Regions from separate parts of the Homo sapiens genome. Here region 1 is linked to region 2. Evidence: fine-mapped expression QTL. A gene starts in region 2. The other region holds a variant in brackets. All regions are shown on one strand. Distances are between the middles of the regions. Region 1 overlaps HMOX2 (heme oxygenase 2). Region 2 holds the start of HMOX2 (heme oxygenase 2).

Region 1 (2,904 bases), 28 kb after region 2:
ACCATGTTGGCCAGGCCGGTCTCGGACTCCTGACCTCCTGATCTGCCCACCTCGGCCTCCCAAAGTGTTGGGATTACAGGCGTGAGCCACCGCGCCCGGCTAGCAAAGCTGTACTTTTACCAAAAAAAAAAAAGAAAACATTTATAAATCAAGGTCTGAAGGCCCATGTGAGGCTTATTCTACAGCTTGCAATGCCTGTTTTTGCCCCTTGGTAAGTGGACGCACAGCTGGGCAGCCTTATGCTATCTCTGTGAACTACCCATTTCTGGCTTTGTTCATAATATTCCCTTGATCTGGAGGCCCTCCCCCAGCCCTGCCCCAAATCCTGTCTGTGTTGAGGGTCCTGCCCCAGGAAGCCCTCTGCATACTCTTCCCTGCATGTAATACCTGCCTGCTTTCACATTCTTCTAGACTGTGCTGTGCATCGTACAGTTCATCAGCATTATTGCAGAGTAGAGTGTCTCTGATTTGGAGTCAAGAGAAGGTTCCATTTTTCTGTACATCCCGATGTTTATTTTCTGAGTGTTCTCAGACATCACTAAGCCTCAGTCAAAATAAAGTATGATCATGATGTAACATTCATTGAGTGCTTATCACATGGTAGGCATTGTGCTATATGAGTTATTGCTTGACTTCCTAAAATAATCCCAGTAGAGATGCTAAATCTAAAGGTGAGAGAGATGGTTCAAAAAGACCTCAGTGAGCAAACCATGTACTATAATATCCTAAAAGATAACAAAAATGTAACTAGGTATCTAGAGAAAACTCAGGAAGGATATGTGCCTTGGGCCTTTTAAGGACCATTTCTTAACACTTCTGTGTTCTTCTTGACACCTGTTTCTGGGTAGAGCACATAGAAAATGCTCAGTAAATAAGTTCTTTTTCCTTGGCCCAGTTTGGCCTGATTTGGCCCCAGTTCTGTCTTTGTGAGTTACTTTATTAGTTGTCGGTGCTACTGTGCTGCTATTCATGTGGAAGATTCCCCAAATGGGCTGCGCCTTACATTGCCTGAGCAGAAGCCCCGAGGGATGGAGGATGAGCTTGCCTTGTTATGGGACTGTGTTTCCCTGGCTGACAAAGGCTCAGCATTTGCAGCAGGCAATGGGAATTGATTGGCCAACTTAATATTTCCTTCAGCCTAGCAAAGTCCTGAGTAGGCTAGGGACAGTCTGCTTTTTTGGTAACTCCTGTAGGCTGCCTTCTGCACAAGGCACCCAGCCTCTCACAGGTAGGATGAACTGGCCTCAGCACGCTTGCAGAGGGGTGGAACTGTGCGTTGCTTGCCAAGCTTTTTGTTTCCCTAAGGTTTTTGAGGTTTTCTTTGTTTTTGGTAACTTTCAATTTTTTTTTTTTTTTTTTTTTTTTGGACAGAGTTTCACTCTTATTGCCCAGGCTGGAGTGCAGTGGCGCGATCTTGGCTCACTGCAACTTCTGCTTCGTAGGTTCAAGTGATTCTCCTGCCTCAGC[C/T]TCCTGAGTAGCTGGGATTACAGGCACGCGCCACCACATCCGGCTAATTTTGCATTTTTAGTAGAAACAGGGTTTCTCCATGTTGGTCAGGCTGGTCTTAAACTCCTAACCTCAGGTGATCCACCCACCTTGGCCTCCCAAAGTGGTGGGATTACAGGCATGAGCCACCGTGTCTGGCCTAACTTTTAATTTTGATACGGTCTTTTTTTTTTTTTTTTTTTTTTTTTTAAGACAGTTTCGCTCTTGTTGCCCAGGCTGGAGTGCAACGGCGTGATCTCGGCTCACTGCAACCTCTGCCTCCTGGGCTCAAGAGATTCTCCTGCCTGAGCCTCCCGAGTAGCTGGGATTACAAGTGTGCACCACCATGCCCGGCTATTTTTTGTATTTTTAGTAGAGACAGGGTTTCACCATGTTAACCAGGCTAGTCTCAAACTCCAGTCTGCCTCGGCCTCCCAAAGTGCTGGGATTACAGGCATGAGCCACTGTGCCCTGCCTTGATACAGTTTTAAGCATACAGAAAAATGGTAAGAATAGTACAAAGAACTCTCATACCTCTTCCCCAGATTCACTGCTAGGATTTTGCCTTGTTTGCTTTTCTGACTTGCCAGTGTCCCCCACCCTGCAGCATATGCACATGCACACACACTGTCTTCTGAACCATCTGACAGGGAGTTGCAGGCAGTGTACCTTTACTTCTGAATACCCCAGTGTGTATTTCTTAGGAACAAAGACATTCTCTTATATAATCGCAGTACAATTATTTTTAAAAACCAGCAAGCTTAATGTCAATACAATGCTATTACCTAATACATTGTTCATATTCAGATTTTTTCCATATTCCACTATGGTCCCAGTAATGGCAGAGCTTTATTTTAAAGAAAACAATCCTGGGGTGTGTGGGTGTCACCTTGGTTACATTCGCTCTGAGGAAAGCAGAACCGACAGGTATTTGGGGAAGTGACTGCCGTGGGTGCCACATCACCAGCTCCTTGTGTCTCTGCAGGACCAGAGGAGCGAGAGCAGCAAGAACCACACCCAGCAGCAATGTCAGCGGAAGTGGAAACCTCAGAGGGGGTAGACGAGTCAGAAAAAAAGAACTCTGGGGCCCTAGAAAAGGAGAACCAAATGAGGTGAGCGATGGGGGCTGGCTGCACTGAATCAGGTGGGCCCAGCACCTGTCGTGCTCAGCACACCTGGTTTTGTCTGTTGGCAGCACTGGGGAGTGGCCATGGGCCATGAGCTCTGGACCCCTGGGTGCCTGCTTGGCCCTGCAGGGACCGCATACAGCTTCGGCTGCTTAGAACTCTCCCCACTGGTCCATTGTCTCATCCAAGGAGGCAGGGCAGGTGCTCCTGGGAGTGCTGATAGGATTTGATGGTAGTTATCCTTTTTTCTTTTTAAAAACTTGTGCGTTTCCTCATCTGGGCTGAGAAAGGG
Region 2 (2,904 bases):
GACAGTGTCTTGGTCCGTCGCCCAGGCTGGTGTGCAGTGGCGCGATCTCGGCTTACTGCAACCTCCGCCCCCCGGGTTCAAGAGATTCTCCTGCCTCAGCCTCCCGAGTAGCTGGGATTACAAGCATGTGCCACCAAGCCCGGCTAATTTTTGTATTTTTTAGTAGAGACGGGGTTTCACCAGGTTGACCAGGCAGGTCTCGAACTCCTGACTTAAAGTGATCCACCCACCTCAGCCTCCCAAAGTGCTGGGAGTACAGGTGGGAGCCACCGTGCCCAGCCCTAACTCACTTCTGAAGTTGCTGCTACTTGCACTGATTTCAGTTTTTTTTTGTTTTTGTTTTTTGTTTTCAAGGTGGAGTCTTGCTCTGTGGCCCAGGCTGGAGTGCAGTGGTGGTGCGATCTTGGCTCACTGCAACTTCCGCCTCTTGGGTTCAAGTGATTCTCCTGCCTCAGTTTCCTGAGTAGCTGGGATTACAGGCAGGAGCCACCATGCCCGGCTAAAATTTTTTTGTATTTTTGGTAGAGACGGGGTTTCAACATGCTGGCCAGGCTGGTCTCGAACTGCTGACCTCAAGTGATCTTCCCGCCTCAGGCTCCCAAAGTGCTGGGATTACAGACATGAGCCACCACACCCGGCCCACGATTTCAGTAATTTCTTTGTGTTCAGTAAAACTAAAAAATGACTCTGGGCTGGGTGCGGTGGCCTGTAATTGCAGTGATTTGGGAGGCCGAGGCGGGTGGATCACCTGAGCTCAGGAGTTCGAGACCAGCCTGGCCAACATGGTGAAACCCCCGTCTCTACTAAAAATACAAAAATTAGCCGGGCGTGGTGGCAGGCGCTTGTAATCCCAGCTATTCGGGAGGTTAAGGCAGGAGAATCGCTTGAACCCGGGAGAAGGGGGTTGCAGTGAGCCGAGATCACGTCATTGCACTCCAGCCTGGGCGACGAGCAAAACTCGGTCTCAAAAAAAGAAAAATCATTCTGTCATTCTGGCCGCTGTTTGAAGAATGCGAATAATGCAACAGGGAGATCAGATACAAGACTGGTAACCGAGGTGTCAGAGTTGAGACTCAGTTTCGCAGATTGCATTGGCAAGTGACCAAGTGGGTGGTGCCACGGTTGACAACCCTATTTCTTACATCACTGAGTGGATGTACAAGGATTAAACCACACTGGGGAAGAAAAGTGCTCAACCCTGAGGCACCCTCACACACCTCGGCTCTTGTGAACACTAGTGTTCCTGCCGAAGCACGCCTACTTACCCCGCTGAGCAGAGCCTGAGCCTGCAACCTCCAGAGACCTGGGGAAAGCCACATACTCCGCTTCCCGCCCCCGGCAAGGGCGTGTCAGCTACAAGGGGCGTGTCATCTCTAGGCCCCGCCCCGCGCTGCGTGCCCACGTTGCGCCGGCCTCGCGCCAGTCCGCTGGGCTGCAGGGACTGCGGCGCCTGAGGGAGTCGCTGACGGGCACGCTGACTGGAGGCTGGCGGACAGGCGACAGCGACCTGCGGCAGGTGAGCTGTCCGCGCCCTCCCGGGGCCTTCCTTCCGCCCGGCTTCTCGGACCGCGCTGCGTCCTTCGCGGGCCCTGCCTCGGTCCAGGCCTTCGGACCTGGGCTTGGCCGGGCCACAGCCCTTTGGGTCCCCTGCGCCGGTCTGAGGGGAGACCCGGCCGGGGGCGGCCGGAAGCTGGGTGAGGCCGGGCAGAAGGACGAAGAAGGGCGTGGAGGGGCTGTCAGGGGAGGGCGAAACCGCGGACGCCGCTCTCCAGAAGTCGTCTCCCCGGGGGCGCGGGGAGGCCTGAATGGCTCTCTTTGGCGTCCCCGTTGGGCCCACCCTCTCCCAGCGTCACGGCTATGCTGGGCGAGGTGACCCCCGGGGTCGTAGCTGGGGGCGTCGGCGGTGCAGACAGGGGATGCCGGCAGAGATTGGAGCCCGGCTTGGCTGTTTCCCGGGCTGTTGGCATTGACCGGGGCTCTGCCCTTCCTCTAATGCCCTTATCTCTATAGGAAGTGCCCCTTGAGTGGGTGTCGTGACTTCACGAGTGAACCCTGGTACGCCCTGGAGCAGAGTCGGACTGGGAGGGATCAAGTGTGGGGGCAGCCGGTTAGTCCGGACGCGGGTTTACCTATTACTTTCTGAGCGCAGTGCTCTGGGTGGATTAATTGCCCTGCAAAAGCTGCCGGGACCTCCTTGCAGTCTTTGCACGAGGCCTGCCTGTGTCATGCCATTTAAATCGCGTCTGGGCCGGGTCGGTGGCTCACGCCTGTAATTCCAGCACTTTGGGAGGCCAGGGCGGGCGGATTGCTTGAGGTCAGGAGTCCGAGACCAGCCTGGCCAACATAGTGAAACCCCGTCTCTACTAAAAATACAAAAATCAGCCGGGCATGGTAACGTGAGCCTGTAGCTCCAGCTACTTAGGAGGCTGAGGCAGGAGAATCGCTTGAACCCGGGAGGCAGAGGTTGCAGTGAGCCGAGATCACGCCATTGCACTCCAGCCTGGGCGACAGAGCAAGACTCCATCTAAAAAAAAAAAAAAAAAAAAAAAAAATCGCTTCTGATGAGCCGGTTGTCGTGGCCTGTGGCTGTCCATCCTTACGTACTGTGTTTTGTTGATGGCGCTACAAACCAGACAAGGTGGAGTGTGATTGAAGAAAGAAACGCTGGCCGGTGCAGTGGCTCACTCCTGTAATCCCAGCACTTTGGGAGGCCGAGGCAGGCGGATCACCTGAGGTCAGGAGTTCGAGATCAGCCTGGCCAACATGGTGAAACCCCGTCTCTACTAAAAATACAAAAAAGTTAAACGGGCGGGGTGGCGCGTGTCTGTAATCCCAGCTACTGGGGAGTTTGAGGTTGGAGGATCACTTGAGCCCACGAAGTGGAGATTGCAGTGAGCTGAGATC

The links. PIP is the estimated chance that this variant, and not a neighbour inherited with it, causes the effect.
Region 1: its variant is fine-mapped to the expression of HMOX2 in whole blood (TOPMed, PIP 0.92).

The regions. Positions count from the first base shown.
Region 1 is chr16:4,503,014-4,505,917 of GRCh38, forward strand. It overlaps HMOX2 (heme oxygenase 2), which reads left to right. Exons shown (of 6, transcript NM_002134.4): 2 at 2,471-2,597. The coding sequence starts at 2,512. Among named protein-coding and RNA genes, the nearest start is that of HMOX2, 28 kb to the left of the region's middle. The variant C/T (reference allele first, on the strand shown) is at 1,468.
Region 2 is chr16:4,474,972-4,477,875 of GRCh38, forward strand. It overlaps HMOX2 (heme oxygenase 2), which reads left to right and starts at 1,427. Exons shown (of 6, transcript NM_002134.4): 1 at 1,427-1,516. It also overlaps a transcript of NMRAL1 not described here. RefSeq lists an enhancer at 1,223-1,724.